Linked DNA regions of Homo sapiens: region 1 is linked to region 2. A link means that fine-mapping ties the variant in region 2 to the expression of a gene that starts in the linked region. Tissue or cell type: whole blood. Region 2 holds a variant in brackets; the other region holds the start of a gene. All regions are shown on one strand. Distances are between the middles of the regions.

Region 1 (8,000 bases), 150 kb before region 2:
TGCCTGTAATCCCAGCTACCAGGGAGGCTGAGGCGGAAGAATCACTTAAACCTGGGAGGCAGAGGTTGCAGTGAGCGGAGATCATGCCACTGCACTACAGCTTGGGTGACAGAGCAAGGCTCTGTCTCAAAAAAACAAGAAAACAAACAAACAAAAACAGGCCGGGTGCAGTGGCTCACGCCTGTCATCCCAGCACTTTGGGAGGCCAAGGCGGGCAGATCACGAGGTCAACAGATCTAAACCATCCTGACCAAAATGGTGAAACCCCATCTCTACTAAAAATACAAAAATTAGCTGGATGTGGTGGCGCACACCTGTAGTCCCAGCTACTCGGGAGGCTGAGGCAGGAGAATCACTTGAACCCAGGAGGCAGAGGTTGCAGTGAGCTGAGATGGCGCCATTGCACTCCAACCTGGCAACAGAGCCAGACTCCGTCTCAAAAAAAAAAACAAAAAAAAAAAACTGGGCAAGCAATCTCCCACCAGGAAATGACAGAGCAAGTTTCCAGGTGTCCTCCACATTTCTCATTTCTTTGCTTTGTTTTTTAAAATATTTATTTATTTATTTTAAGAGACAGGATCTCTCACTCTATTGCCCAGGCTGTAGTGCAGTGGCATGATTACACCTCACTGCAGCCTCGACTTCCCAGGCTGAAGTGATTCTCCCATTTCAGTATCTGGAGTAGCTGGACTACAGGTGCTGTGTACACCACCGCGCCTAAGTAATTTTTTTTTTTTAACTTTTGTAGAGATGGGGAATAGGGGGGTCTCTTTATGTTTGCTGGGCTCAAGCGATCCTCCCACCCTCGTCTCCTGAAACGTTGGGATTACAGGCATGAGACACTGTGCCCGACCAACATTCTTTCCTTTGTACTCCTTAGTCTGAATATGGGTATAAACTATTAAAAATAACAAAATTATCCCTGAAGGCCAATCTTGATCTCACTCCTACACATTGAATTCATCCTGTAACAACTTTAAGATAAAGAAGTTCTGTCCTTTTCAATTTGCCTGCTTTTTTTTTTTTTTTGAGACGGAGTCTCGCTCTTTCGCCCAGGCCAGAGTGCAGTGGCGCGATCTCGGCTCACTGCAAGCTCCACCTCCCGGGTTCACGCCATTCTCCTGCCTCAGCCTCCCGAGTAGCTGGGACTACAGGTGCCCGCCACCGTGCCCGGCTAATTTTTTGTATTTTTAGTAGAGACGGGGTTTCACCGTGTTAACCAGGATGGTCTCGATCTCCTGACCTCGTGATCCGCCCGCCTTGGCCTCCCAAAGTGCTGGGATTACAGGCGTGAGCCACCGCACCTGGCCTTTTTTTTTTTTTTTGAGACAGAGTCTCGCTCTGTCGCACAGGCTGGAGTGCAGTGGGCGATCTCTGCTCACTGCAGGCTCTGCCTCCCAGGTTCACGCCATTCTCCTGCCTCAGCCTCCCGAGTAGCTAGGACTACAGGTGCCCGCCACCACGCCCAGCTAATTTTTTTGTGTGTGTTTTTAGTAGAGACGGGGTTTCACCGTGTTGGCCAGGATGGTCTCAATCTCCTGACCTCCTGATCCGCCCTCCTCGGCCTCCCAAAGTGCTGGGATTACAAGCGTGAGCCACCACGCCCGGTTCAATTTGCCTGCTTTTCTACTGCAGTTTGGGTGATCTAGGCCTGATCATTAGAGGACAGATTCCATCCCTGTCAGCAACTTCAATTGCTCCATTAGGATCTTCACTCTTATGTTCTTATTTATTCATCCCAACATTAATTTAAAAAACAAACAGAAACAATATAAAAAAAAAAACAAAGAAAATCCAACAATTTGCAAATACCAGCTACGGAGCATGAGATATGAAATAAAAGAAAAAAAATTTTTTTTTCTTTGGGACAGAGTTTTGCTCTTGTCGCCCAGGCTGGAGTGCAATGGCACAATCTCAGCTCACTGCAACCTCCGCTTCCCGGGTTTAAGAGATTCTCCTACCTCAGCCTCCCAAGTAGCTAGGATTACAGGCGTGCACCACCACACCCGGACAAGTTTTGTATTTTTAGTAGAAACGGGGTTTCACCATGTTGGCCAGGCTTGTCTCGAACTCCTGACCTCAGGTGATCCACTGGCCTCGGCCTCACAAAGTGCTGGGATTACAGGCGTGAGCCACCGTGCCTGGCCGAGAAAAAGCTTTTAACCGTATCAGTAGATACTGGTTTCGGGGTTTCTTTCGGGGTCACTTACACCCCTGCCACCTCCTCCAGTACCAATTTACCCATGGCCAAACACAGGGTGATGTGTAGGAACCTGAAAGCACGTCTCCGACCTCAGCTGCAAAACTGTGGAGTCCCACACACTAGACTTTATATTCCAGCATTTCCTCTCACCATTACATTTTTGCTTTTTTCCATCCTTACATTACCTTTACCACATTTTTGTTTTTCCCATAATTACATTAGATAAGGCAATGGCTAGACGTGGTCTTTTACTAACTTGTTCTATTGGGAGCGGACGAGAAAAAAAAAAAAGACAAACCCTAGAAATGTCTTCAGGTCCCAGCCATGTTTAGGAAAATACTTGAAGGCTTCTGCGGTGAGAGTGCTACCTGGTAAGGGCGTATGGACACACGTGGAGGGCAAGAAATGAATTTGGGTCTGGTGCCGAAACATCTTTCCACTGCTGTGATTTTGTTTTCTGGTCAGAGTAATAATGCTCGTTGTAAAATAAATAAATAAATAATACATAAAAAGGAAAAGGAAAATTCAGAGAAAATGAAAACAACTCGTAATCAACGTGCTTTTTGGATGTGAACTGCTCCCTTTGGGAGGGCAATGGAGAAGTGAGGACGCACTGGGTATCTGGCCCGGAACAGCCGGCAGTGGGTACACCCTGCCTGGTGAATTCGACCGGGGTTTTGGGGGACCCGCCACCCAAGGGCCGAAGAGCAGGGCCGCCCTACGGGCGCTCCCATTTGGCCACCTGAGTGGCGACTTGGCGCCTTCCTCGGAGCAGCTCCGGGGTTCCGTCGTCCCGGTTCCCACTGGTCCCTTACGCAGAGACCAAAGGCAGGAACCTTCCCTCGTAACTATCCACCGACTGAAAATAGATTCTGAGTCCGCCCCCGCCCCTCCCCCCTTAAAATCCTCCCCACTCTTAAAATCCTCCCCTTTAAAGGGAGCCACAGGGTGACGCCGGGGGAGTTTGCGGAAGCGCTAACCGCGTTGGGGCCTAGGGCGGATCCCGTGATTGGGACAGGCCCCGCCCCCGGCTCCACTTCCCCCATTGTGTGAGCGGCTCGGGCCTAGGCCCCGCCCCCCTCCGGAGGCCCGGCCACTCCCCTTTTCCACCCCCCCTTGGCTCATTTCCGGCCGCCGCCGCTACCGCTAGCCTGTAAGGAGGATTCGGCAGAGGGAAGAAACAACAGCCGCCATCTTGTTTGTGTGCTAGGCTGGGGGGGAGAGAGGGCGAGAGAGAGCGGGCGAGAGTGGGCAAGCAGGACGCCGGGCTGAGTGCTAACTGCGGGAGCCAGAGAGTGCGGAGGGGAGTCGGGTCGGAGAGAGGCGGCAGGGGCCGAGACAGTGGCAGGGGGCCCGGGGCGCACGGGCTGAGGCGACCCCCAGCCCCCTCCCGTCCGCACACACCCCCACCGCGGTCCAGCAGCCGGGCCGGCGTCGACGCCTAGGGGGGACCATTACATAACCCCGCGCCCCGCGGCGTCTTCTCCCGCCGCCGCGGGCGGCCCCGAACGGAGCCCCGGGGGGCGGGCGCTCCCAGCACCTGGCCGCCGGCGGTGGGGGCCGTAGCAGCGGCCGTATTTATTTATTTTCCGCGGGAAAGGAAGGCGAAGGAGGGGAGCGCGGCGCGAGGAGGGGCCGCCTGCGCCGCCGCCGGAGCGGGGCCTCCTCGGTGGGCTCCGCGTCGGCGCGGGCGTGCGGGCGGCGCTGCTCGGCCCGGCCCCCTCGGCCCTCTGGTCCGGCCAGCTCCGCTCCCGGCGTCCTTGCCGCGCCTCCGCCGGCCGCCGCGCGATGTGAGGCGGCGGCGCCAGCCTGGCTCTCGGCTCGGGCGAGTTCTCTGCGGCCATTAGGGGCCGGTGCGGCGGCGGCGGCGCGGAGCGCGGCGGCAGGAGGAGGGTTCGGAGGGTGGGGGCGCAGGCCCGGGAGGGGGCACCGGGAGGAGGTGAGTGTCTCTTGTCGCCTCCTCCTCTCCCCCCTTTTCGCCCCCGCCTCCTTGTGGCGATGAGAAGGAGGAGGACAGCGCCGAGGAGGAAGAGGTTGATGGCGGCGGCGGAGCTCCGAGAGACCTCGGCTGGGCAGGGGCCGGCCGTGGCGGGCCGGGGACTGCGCCTCTAGAGCCGCGAGTTCTCGGGAATTCGCCGCAGCGGACGCGCTCGGCGAATTTGTGCTCTTGTGCCCTCCTCCGGGCTTGGGCCCAGGCCCGGCCCCTCGCACTTGCCCTTACCTTTTCTATCGAGTCCGCATCCCTCTCCAGCCACTGCGACCCGGCGAAGAGAAAAAGGAACTTCCCCCACCCCCTCGGGTGCCGTCGGAGCCCCCCAGCCCACCCCTGGGTGCGGCGCGGGGACCCCGGGCCGAAGAAGAGATTTCCTGAGGATTCTGGTTTTCCTCGCTTGTATCTCCGAAAGAATTAAAAATGGCCGAGAATGTGGTGGAACCGGGGCCGCCTTCAGCCAAGCGGCCTAAACTCTCATCTCCGGCCCTCTCGGCGTCCGCCAGCGATGGCACAGGTTAGTTTCGGCAGCCCCGGCCTTCCACGTTCCCTTTAATCTTTTCTACTCGGTGCGCCTTTATTCTTCCATTTTTTTTTTCTTCCTCTCTCTCTAGTTCCCTGCCCCTTAATTAATTTTAAAGGTATTTGAATGAGCTGGTCGAAGACGTCCAGTAGCCCAACCATTTTCTTTGCCTCCTAATACATTGATTGCAACACTATGTCATATCGGTGTGTGTTCTGGAATTAGAGCTCGTAAGTGGGTGCTATATAGAAATGGCCTGTATTGTTGCTCTCATGCAATTTAATTTGGGAAATGCCAATGCATTTGTGTGTAAGAGCTCCTATGCAATTTAAGTTTCATTTTTTTTGTTCTTGGCAAATGAATTTCGAATCCTTTCTCTTTACTGTACTTACTGTGTTTCCTCTACTTTCCACTCTTCGAAATTTTCTCTCCTTTGCAGAATATTTTCTGTTGAGGAATAGGGTGTAAAAAAATCTTGATTTTGTGTGTGCGAGGTCCAAGATTTCAGGTTAGAGGTGAAGTTTAACAATTCTTTTATCTTACCTACCATTCTTAGCTTTTTTTTCCTTTTTCTTCTTATTTGCTTTAAGAATCAATATGGAGCGCAGTTCATTTCACATCTCCCAGTTCTTTGGTGTGAGACCAAAATGTCTGAAACTCTGGGTTTTTAGGTTGGGAGAACAGGGGCATGTTCTTTGCAGTTTGCAGTCACTTTCTCATTTTAGGGGAAATAAGATAAACAATTTTGTGGAGTTACGTACCTGGAAATCAAGGTTAGAAGTTGAAAGAGTTCCAATCATGAACTACAAACGTGAACTGATTGTACAAAAGTTTAAAATGTGCATTAGGTTTGGTGTTTGTGTGTGTCTTTGTCTTTTTACACTTTTAAACATACTTGGAGATCAAGATTTTCGTTTAAAAGCTTTACGACCAGTTCATTCAGTTGTGGACTAGCTCCTTTGTCAGGAGAAGTTCAGGGAGACTTCTTCCATCATCCCTTCATTCTTTTCTTACAGTTAGTTTAATGGTGTTATCCTGATGGGTAAGGACCTTTTCTTTGCTGGGATAATGAAGATGAAGAATGGCTGGCCATCTGACAGTCCACAAGATGTTCCCCTTTACTACGGAGCATCTCTTTAACTCCCTGAGAGCAGGCTCAGCGTCATCCCTCCATCTGCCAGTGAGAGTGCATAATGGAGTTAAATGTACCCTTTGAGTTTGTAGAGAACTTCGAGAGCATGTTTCTAAATAGGCTTCATTTCAGAGGGTGAAAATGGGAAGACAGAGCTAATGCTTTGAATTCGTTGCTTTTATAAGAAAGATGTGAAATGAATTTAAGTTAACCTGCAAAAATTGAGAAGTAGGAATCTTGCGAGTTCCTCTACCTAAGGCTTGTAACATTGATTATGCATGAACTTTGATCTGTACCTATTCTATGAAGGTACTGTAGTCTCCAGGGATTTTTTTAGCTGGTTTTTTCCTTCAGAATTCATACACATACACAAACGTCGTTGTATTCCTTTGCACCTACTAAAGTGCCATTCAGAAACATTTTTTAGATCATCTTTAGAGACTTAATCACCTGTAGATTTTTGTGGTGTTTCTTTCGTATTTGTGTAATGTGGTAGTTTTTGCTTTTTAGTTTTGGTGTAACGTGGTAGTCGATTTTACATTGGAGTTAGCCAGTGACTTGGAACGTAGGGGAAACTTTTTTGTGTACTTTGAGTAGTCCTGATTTGAGCAGTTTCGTCTTGGAGCTGTATTGTTTAAATACTTCTGTTCAGGTGTGCTACTACTTTCTCCATGTCGGTCTGTTTTGCTACTTGAAATATCTTTGAATAATTACAAGAGTTTTAAATGTGTTAAGTGGGCTTTTATAGTTTAAAAAAAAACTCAACATTGAGATTAATTCATTCACTCATAATGCTAAGAGTTTATCTTAGTTACTTTTCTAAATTTTGTAATGAGGGTTAACTTTACCCCCCTCCCCAAATCAAGATTCTACTCCAGGAATTCTTTGGTGTACGGTTTTTAATTGTAACCAGTCTGGGTTTGGGGGAGGGGAGAAGTGAGTATAAAGAAAATACTGTCCCTCTGTTAACTTACTTCAAGTTGGGTACCATTGTAATTTTTTTTTTTTTTTTTTTTTTTTTGAGATGGAGTCTCATTCTGTCACCCAGGCTGGAGTGCAGTGGTGCGATCTCACTACAACCTCTGCCTCCTGGGTTAAAGCAGTTCTGTCTCAGCCTCCCTAGTAGCTAGGACTACAGGCGCAGACCACCACGCCTGGCTGATTTTTGTATTTTTAGTTGAGACAGGATTTCACCATATTGGTCAGGCTGGTCTCGATCTCCTGCCCTCAAGTGATCCACCCACCTTGGCCTCCCGAAGTGCTGGGGTTACAGGTATGAGCCGCCCGGCCAGAGGTACCATTATATCTTGAATTTTTTTTTTTTGACATTCTGCAGTTTGTAATATGTTTGCAGGTAACTTTTATTGGAGGCACATCACCTCTTAAAACTTTTAAGTTTCAAACTTGTAACTTTTGATTTTTGAGTTGTCACTTGGGTATTTTATAAATGTGAAAGAAAATTATTTCTTGATATTATGGTTTTTGTCTAGAACTGGTTGAAATAAGCCCGAAATTCTAGCACCTAAAACTTTTTTAAAAAAAGTGATTTAGGCTTGCAAATTTCGTGATGTAAATATATCCACCAAGAGCGTTCTAATGTCAGCTTTAAAGGAAAGAAAACTGGAATCCAATGGGATGACATGCTAAAGTGTTACAAATCAAATTATTACTTAAATCTCAACCTCTGAATTGCTGTTTAATACTCAGATATTCTCCTAAAAAATTTCCAGGTTGATTCAAATAACTTAGGTTAAACTCAACTTTTACGTGTTGGGATGGGGAAGAGAAGACTTATTTGTAGCCTTCACACCTTTATGTTCCTGTTTCAGTATTTGCATTTGATCCATTGAAATTTTTATTTCATTTGGTATGGTTAGGGTAAAACAAATCATTTGAGAAATGACATTTTGTTCTCCCTCTCCCTCCAAAAAAAAAAGATTATGAAAGCCACTTGTAAACTTTTTTTGTAAAAATGACCAAAAGACTGGAAAAGTTAATGTTAGGCAAATCCTGGAAATATCTTTTGGAGCTGTTTCTGATCATCTTGAGTGATGGAAATGATGAGGGTCATCTGTTGTCTTCATTACTCAGTGAACACGTTTTGTCACTGCTTGGTAAACGCTTAATGCCGTATGCACTTAAAAAGCACCTG
Region 2 (8,259 bases):
AAAACACTTGCTCCGTCCAAGTCACCCAGATGCCCAGTTCATGGTCCACCCCACCACCCAATAATGGCAAAACCTCTTGGGGGCTCTCAATATGTACAAACAGTAGATGACTGCATGGTCCCAAATTCCTCCCTCCTCTATGCTCCAGCAATACCGTCCTGTGCAGGCACCGTGTGTGGCCTGGGTTCTGCCCGGACTGTCACTCACACCGGTAGGGGCAGTCCTGGTTTATCTCAGGGTCCCCGTGCCCAGGCTGAGACCTGGCACCAAGGGGCTGGCAAATGCTTGTTGAGTGAATGCACGCTGCCTGTGGCCTTGTGCCGCCTCCTGCACCAACCCCGCCAGATGCCCAGTGCCCACCTGCTCCAGGCCACTGCTGTTCAGGAAGAGGTGCTGCAGCGACCTGCCCACAGGCTGGAAGGCTCCGTCACGCAAGGCCCTGAGTGGGTTGCCCGAGAGCTGCAGCTCCAGGAGGGCAGGCAGCCCCTCCAAGGCCCCAGTGGGCACCTCTCGCAGCTGATTCCTGTCCAGGTGCAGCTTCTCCAGCTCCCGAGCTGGGCCCAGCGCCCCAAGGGACACTTCGGTGATGCGGTTTCCACTCAGGTAGACCCAGCGCAAGGCCCGTGTTCTCCCCAGGTCCCCAGGTGCCAGGCGGTCCACAGCGTTGTCCTGCAGGTGCAGGGAGAAGAGGCTGGGCAGGGCGCGCAGGGCAGCCCCTGGCACCTGCAGGAAACGGTTGCGTTCTAGGTACAGGTAGCCGAGGCGGGGAGCCCCTTCAAGGGCAGCAGCGCTGAGGCCTGCGAGCTGGTTGTCGGAGAGGTACAGGTAGATCAGGCGGCCCAGCCCGGCCAGGGCGCCCGCTTCCAGCTCCGCGATGCCGCAGTGCTGCAGGTGCAGCGACACCAGGTGGCCCAGGCCGGGGAAGGCCGCTCGGGGCACCGAGGGGAAGTGGTTCCGCCTCAGGTCCAGGAGCTGGGTGTCGCTGGGGAAGCCGCGGGGCACCGCCTGCAGGCCGCAGCCCTCGCAGCTGCTGTGCCGGGACTCGGGGACGCACACGCAGGCGCGAGGGCAAGGCGCGACTGCCCGCTCCTCCCCGGGGCCGCGCGGAGGGCCGCGCGGAGGGGCGCGGGGCCCGGCCACAGCCCGCTCTTCCAGCTCTTCCTCTTCCTGCGCCGCGTCCCCAGGGCAGCGCAGGTCCCAGGGCCGCAGGGCGTCCAGAGCCTCGCCCCGCAGGCGCCGCGGCCCCTGGCACGCGCCGTCCGAGCGCACGCGCGCCCGCGCCAGCCACTCGAGTAGGGGCCGCGCCTGGCAGCCGCACCACAGCGGATTCCCCTGCAGCCGCAGCCGGCGCAGCTGGCCCGGGCCCTGCAGCGGGGGCAGGGTGTCTAGCTGGTTCCCGCGGAGGTCGAGGGTGTGCAGGCGCGGACAGTGTGCGAAGGCCCTGGGACCCAGGGCCTGCAGGGCCCCGCCGTCCAGCAGCAGCTCCCGCAGGCCGGGCAGCGCCAGCCCGTCCTCCTCGCCCGCGTAGGTGAGCGGGTTGTGGCCCAGCTCCAGACGGGCCAGGCCGCGGGCCTGGGACAAGACAGGCCCGGGCAGAGCCTGGAGCTCGTTGTGGTGTAGGCTGAGCCGTCTCAGGGCGGGCAGGCCAGCCAGGGCCTCGGGGGCCAGCACGCTGAGCGCGTTGTGCGACAGCCGCAGCCAGCGGACGCGCAGTAGCCCCTGGAAGGCCATGGCGGGCAGGTAAACCAGGGCGTTGTGGGCCAGGTTTAGCGTGGCCAGCGCACCCAGTGCCCCGAACGTCCCCGGCCGCAGCTCCTCCAGTGCGTTCCCCTCCAGCTCCAGCCGCCGCAACGAGCCCAGCCCGTCCAGCGCCTCCTGGGGCAGCTCACGCAGGTGGTTGGAGGCCAGGTTGAGCAGGAGCAGGCGGCCCAGGCCACGGAAGGCGCCCTCGGCCACCAGCTCCACCTCGCAGTGGCGCAGGTCCAGGTGTGTGAGGTGAGGCACGCCCTGGAAGGCGGCTGCGGGGATCACCTTCAGCAAATTGCCCTGCAGGTCCAGCCGCTGGGTCAGCTGGGGACAGCGAGGAGAAAGTGGGGCTGAGCCAGGCAGGGACCCCGCCTTTGCAAGTGCTGCTTCTTCCCCGGAACACTCTTTTCTCCTGTCACCTTTCCCATATTTCTCTTCATCCGACCCCTGACACCTCCTCCAGGAAGCCTTCCTCTCCAGTGCCCTGGGCATCACCCACTGTGGCATTTTTCACACTGTGCTGTCCCTGCCTCCTCGCTCTCTCTCCTCCACTAGCTGATGACTCTGCAGAGCAGAGACCACACCTCACCCTGCCACAGCCCGCCTCTCCACCACAGGGTCTGCAGTGAATTCAGTATCGATCTATGGGTCACCTACTTATTCCATTCACACAGTAAGGATTTTAAATAGATCATCTCCCTGTTACTGGTTTTTATTATTCCCATTTTACAGAAGTGTAAACTGAGGCTCAAAGAGAAGTAATTTGCCAAGGTCTCCCGGGCAGGCGGTGGCAGATCAACTGGTGCCCAGCCCAGGCTCCTCCCTCTGGGTCCCCACCTTGCCCCACTGCCACTCTGTGCCTGTGCTCCTGCCCTGCTGACCTCAGGGATGGCGTCTGGCACCTCAGTGAGGTTCTGGTACCGGCAGGCAACGTGTCGCCTGGAGTTGTCACAGATGCAGGCCTGTGGGCAGCGCTGGGCGGCGGCCTGCCTAGCCGGGGCCAGCAGCAGAAGTACAAGAAGCGGCAGCACCAAGGGGACATGGGTGGAGCTCCGGGGCCTGGGACGGGGAGGGAGAGTCTGTTGTGCACAAGGGCCGAGGCCACATGCTGTCCCTCACTTAGTCCCAGCCATGGTGCAGCTCCTGCCCCAAAAACCCCTCAGAGCCTCCTCCTTTGGGCCCAGGAAAGTGCCAATCACCCTGAGCCTCCCTGCCCCCCACCCCCCACGCAGTGGAGGTCCTATGATTAGTCCTGTTTTACATGGGAGGAAACCGAGGCTCAGAAAAGTGACCTGGTTAGTCCCTTTGCCTCTGCCCAATGGCTCAGTGAGGACTTGCTGACTGTGAGAATGACTCCAGTTCAGAGCATGTTCTCAGGCTGTGGTGAGGCTCTGGTCCAGGGTAGGCTCGGAAGCAGCCTGTCCTCAGACTGATATGATGCCAGCTCCCAGGTGGCAGGAGCATAATGGTACCCCCCAGAAAGGAGGGAGGCATCCAGTCCGGGTCCTTGAGTCTTTTTTTGTTTGTTTGTTTAAA[T/G]AGAGACAAGCCTTGCTCTGTTGCCCAGGCTGGAGTCTGGAGTGCAGTGGAATGACTATGGCTTACTGCAGCCTTCACCTCCTGGGCTAAAGTGATCCTCTCACCTCAGCCTCTTGAGTAGCTGGGACTACAGGCACACACCACCACGCCTGGCTAATTTTTTAATTACTTCTGGTAGAGACAGGGTCTCGCTATGTTGCCCGGGCTGGTCTTGAACTCCTGGCCTCAAGTGATTGTCCCACCTTGGCCTCCCAAAGCGCTAGGATGATAGATCACCTCCCCTGCCCAGCTGGCCCCTCTGTTCTCAGCCTGTGTCAGGCATGGCCTCTCCCCCATCGCTGGGCTGTTCCCCGGCCCCCAGGAGCCTCCCCCTCGCTGCTCACTGGACTATCGTCTGTTTTGGAGTCTCCTTTGGGTCCCAGGCTCCAGCCCCTGCGTTGGAGTTGGTGGCTTCTCCAGAGCCTGTGGTGAAGGCTGTGCCTCAGGGCAGGCCAGGGAGGGGACCCATGGGGACAGATCGCTGAAGCGACAAGCATTCATAATGCAGGGACCACTGCTGGGCTCTCAGACAAGCCCCAGAGGACCAGTTCCTGGCAGTGGCCACATTGCCACGTGTCTCAGAGCCCACCTTGGGAGACCCCCTTCCTGGAGAACCCCAGGAAGTCCCCAGAGCCCCTGCCCGCCAGCCTCTGAGAGGCCCAGAGGGGGCAGAGACTTACCTGAGGCCACTGAGCTGCTCTGAATCCCCCCTTGCACCATCGGGCCCAAAGACTCACCCCTCCATGCCGCCTGGAACTGCTGGTCCAGCCTGGAGGCGCAGCGCAGGGACAGGCTGTCCCCGCCTGGCAGGAGCCCCCCTCCACGGCCCGCAGGCCTGGCAGCTGGGACAGGGCTGAATGGGAGGCATTGTCGGCAGACCAGGCAAGCCAGGCTTCCCCAGGCTGAGGTGAAGAAGGGGCGGGCGGCGGGCGGGAGCAGCGGCTGGAGTTACAGGGCCTCCTGCCTGCCCCAGCCGAGGACTGAGGCCCCGGCCTGAATCCTTGGGCCAGCCCGACAGGGAGGGGGCACCAGCAGCTGGCCCGGGAGTCAGCAGTCCTGGGCTCCCTCCTGCCATGTGGGCTGCCCTCCCAGAGGCTGCTTCCTAGTCTCTGAAAAACACATCCCATTAATAAGTAGCTCTGAGGTCACAGTGGGGGTTCAGGCCCGCACCTGGCACACAGTGGGTGCTTCAGAACAGGTGACCCTTTCCTTCCGTTTGTGCTTACACATTGACATAAATAGTTTAATACTGGACACACAGGATTCTAGACACTCATTTTTTTCACTTAACCTCAGATTACTGGGAGTTATCCAAATTGACTCTTCCGAATCTCATTATTCTGTGGTATATAGTATTCCATTGTGTAAATGTATCACATTGACTTAGCCATTCATCTTGGACATTGGCTACCTCCAATTTTTTGCTATTTACAAACAATATTGCAAAGAATATCCAAATACGCATCTTCCCAAGCTCGTGTTTGTTTTTTAAATAATACATCCAGACCATGGCCAATGTTCATGTATCTTGATTTTTCAGATTCCTGCTTCTGATGGAATTGCATCTTCTACTGTTTGTTCCTTTAATTGGAAACAGGGGTCAGGCACAGTGGCTCATGCCTGTAATCCCAGCACTTTGGGAGGCTGAGGTGGGAGGATCACTTGAGCCCAGGAGTTTGAGACCAGCCTGGGCAACACAGACTCTGTCTCAAGAGAAAAAAAAAAGGCCGGGCGCGGTGGCTCACGCCTGTAATCCCAGCACTTTGGGAGGCGGAGGCGGGTGGATCACGAGGTCGAGATCAAGACCATCCTGGCTAACACAGTGAAACCCTATCTCTACTAAAAGTACAAAAAATTAGCCGGGTGTGGTGGCAGGCGCCTGTAGTCCCAGCTACTTGGGAGGCTGAGGCAGGCAAATGGCATGAACGCGAGAGCCGAGATGGCGCCACTGCACTCTAGCCTGGGCAACAGAGTGAAACTGTCTCAAAAAAGAAAAAAAATATATACATATATATATATATATATATATATATATATATATATATATATATATATATGTATGTGTGTGTGTATACACTTATGTGTGTATATATTTATATATAATAAAAATATAAATGTATATGTTTATATATATTTATATATGTTAAACAATGAACATCTGTGTGTACTTTTCCTAGACTGCAGGAGTTTTTTGTTTTTTGAGACAGAGTCTCACTTTATCGCCCAGGCTGGAGCTCACTGCAACCTCCACCTCCCTGGTTCATGCGATTCTCCTGCCTCAGCTTCCCAAGTAGCTGGGATGACAGATGTGTACCACCACATCTGGTTAATTTTTGCATTTTTAGTAGAGACGGGGTTTCGCCATGTTGGCCAGGCCGGTCCCGAACTCCTGACCTCAAGTGATCTGCCCGCCTTGATCTCCCAAAGTGCTGGGATTACAGGCATGAGTCACCACGCCCAGCCCTGCAGTAACATTTTAAAAAAAGAAATAGTGCCATGCCACACAGCCATCTGCTTTGTGCTTTTTTTGCTTGGCAAATTCCAATCAATGGAACTTCAGTGTGCTCTTTCGTCCTTTTTTTGAGACAGGGTCTCACTGTTGCCCAGGTGTGAGTGAAGTGTGATCATGGCTCACTGCGGCCTTGACATACCAGCCTCCCAAGCAGCTGGGACCTCCAGATATGCACCGCCACCTCCAGCTGGTTTTAAAATTTGTTGTAGAGTTGGGGTCTTGCTATGTTGTCCAGGCTGGTCTTGAACTCCGGGGCACAAGTGATCCTCCCACCTCGGCCTCCCAAAGCGTTAGGATTACAGGCATGAGCCACTGCACCTGGCTGTGTCTGGCGTTTTCCACTCAATATTATGTTAGTGAGAATCATCTTTTTATTTTTTTTTTGAGACGGAGTCTAGCTCTCGTTGCCCAGGCTAGAGTACAGTGGCGTGATCTCAGCTCACTGCAACCTCCGCCTCCCAGGTTCAAGGAATTCTGCTTCAGCTTCCCGAGTAGCTGGGATTACAGGCACCCGCCACCACACCCAGCTAATTTTTGTATTTTTAGTAGAGACGGGTCTCACCATATTGGCCAGGCAGGTCACAAACTCCTGACCTCAAGTGATCCGCCCGCCTCAACCTCCCAAAGTCCTAGGATTTACAGGTGTGAGCCCGCACCCGGCTTCATCTATTTTAATTTTTTTTTTAAATTCAGCATTCCAGCCTTCCATTCTATAAATATATGACAACAGTGGCATGGGGCAGGGGCGGGAGGCAGTCTGCCCACAATGCAGGCAGTAAGCGGGTGTGCTGTCAGTGGAGAAGTGAGACACAATGGAACTGACTTAAAGTTGGTCTCTGCTTTTTATTATCATGTGCTGACAAGTCTAAACAATGTCAATGCTAAAATATTTCTTCTTGGGCAGACCATTCCTACCTTCTCGGTACCACACCGTACCACAAGTAGCTTACCCATTCCTCTAGTGATAGACATTTGGGTTGTTTCCAGCATGGGTTTATTAGAAAGAGCACTGTAGCCGGGCATGGTGGTTCATGCCTGTTAAGTGAGCTGAGGCGGGAGGATCACTTGAGCCCAATAATTCAAGACCAGCCTGGACAACACAATGAGACCCTGTCTTTACAAAAAAAAGCTGAACGTGGTGGCTTGTGACATGGTCCCAGCTACTTGGGAGGCTGAGGCACGAAGACTAAGTGAGCCCAGGAGGTCGAGGCTGCAGTGAGCTGTGATCACACCACTGCACCCCAGCCTGGGTGACATGGCAAGACCCTGTCTCAAAAAAAAAAAAAAAAAAAAAAAAGGTTGTACCAATTTACACATCTGCCAGCCACTCCAGTTGCCCCAAATCCTCACCAAACTTGGTACTGTATTTTGTATTTTAGCCATTCTAGTGAGGGCATAAGAGTGTCACACTGTGATTATGTTTCTCTGGGAGGATCACCTGAGCCCGGGGGGTAGAGGCTGCAGTGAGCCGAGATAGAAGCTGGGCAACATGAGACCCTGTTTGAAAAAAATTAAAGTTATCCCCCCCACCCATATATATATACAGAGAGAGTTTAGGCAATTATTTTCTCCCTGTCTGTAAGTTGCCTTTGTACTCCTTAATGAGTATTTTGATAAACAGAAACCTGTTCTCACTGCTACATCATTTCCATTGTGTGAACATCCCACGATAATGGCAAAGGAGGTTAAATACAGCTTAATTTATTCATCTTTTCCTCACTCCTAAGGCCTTGAAGATACTCACTTACACTATCTCCTACAAGCTCTCTCTCTCTTTTTTGAGACAGGGTCTCGCTGTCAGTCATGCTGGAGTGCAGTGGCACGATCACGGCTTGCTGCAGCATCCACTTCTTGGGCTCAGGTGATCCTCCCACCTCAGGTTCCCAAGTAGCTGAGACTACAGGCATGCATCACCACACCCAGCTCATTTTTGTATTTTTAGTAGAGACAGGGTTTTGCCATGTTGGCCAGGCCAGTCTTGAATTCCTGGGCTCAAGTGATCTGCCCGCCTCGTCCTCCCAAAGTGCTAGGATTACTACAGGCGTGAGCCACCACACCCGGGTGAAGCTCTATAGTTTTGCTTAATTTTTAAAACATTAACTGAGGTAAAATATATTAATACATGAAATCTATCATTTTAACCATTTTTATGTGTACAATTCAGTGCATTAAGTACATTCACAATGTTATGCAACCATCACCACTCTCCATTTCCAGAACATCTTCATCATCCCAGAGAATCTGTTTGCAGCCTCACTCCCTATTCCACCCTTCCCCTAGCCCTGGCAACCTCTACCTTCTTGTCTCTGAATTTGCTTATTCTAGATGCCTCATCTAAATGGAATCATATTTGTCCTTTTGTGTCTGGCTTATTTCATTTAACATGTTTTCAAAGTTCATCCACGTTGTAGCTGGCATCAGAACTT

What was found. PIP is the estimated chance that this variant, and not a neighbour inherited with it, causes the effect.
Region 1: EP300 starts here. The variant in region 2 is fine-mapped to the expression of EP300 in whole blood (TOPMed, PIP 0.97).

Annotation. Positions count from the first base shown.
Region 1 is chr22:41,088,389-41,096,388 of GRCh38, forward strand. EP300 (EP300 lysine acetyltransferase) reads left to right here and starts at 4,204. Exons shown (of 31, transcript NM_001429.4): 1 at 4,204-4,710. The coding sequence starts at 4,617. It overlaps MIR1281 (microRNA 1281), which reads left to right and starts at 4,125; the gene lies at 4,125-4,178. RefSeq lists silencers at 3,105-3,394, 3,495-4,264, 4,445-4,544 and an enhancer at 4,655-4,894.
Region 2 is chr22:41,236,816-41,245,074 of GRCh38, forward strand. CHADL (chondroadherin like) reads right to left here and starts at 4,116. Exons shown (of 6, transcript NM_138481.2): 1 at 4,059-4,116; 2 at 2,628-2,805; 3 at 361-2,070. The coding sequence starts at 4,066. RANGAP1 (Ran GTPase activating protein 1) reads right to left here. Exons shown (of 16, transcript NM_002883.4): 16 at 7,964-8,259. RefSeq lists enhancers at 1-503, 504-1,092, 1,093-1,681, 1,682-2,269, 3,719-4,219 and 1 more and silencers at 867-966, 1,027-1,406. The variant T/G (reference allele first, on the strand shown) is at 3,283.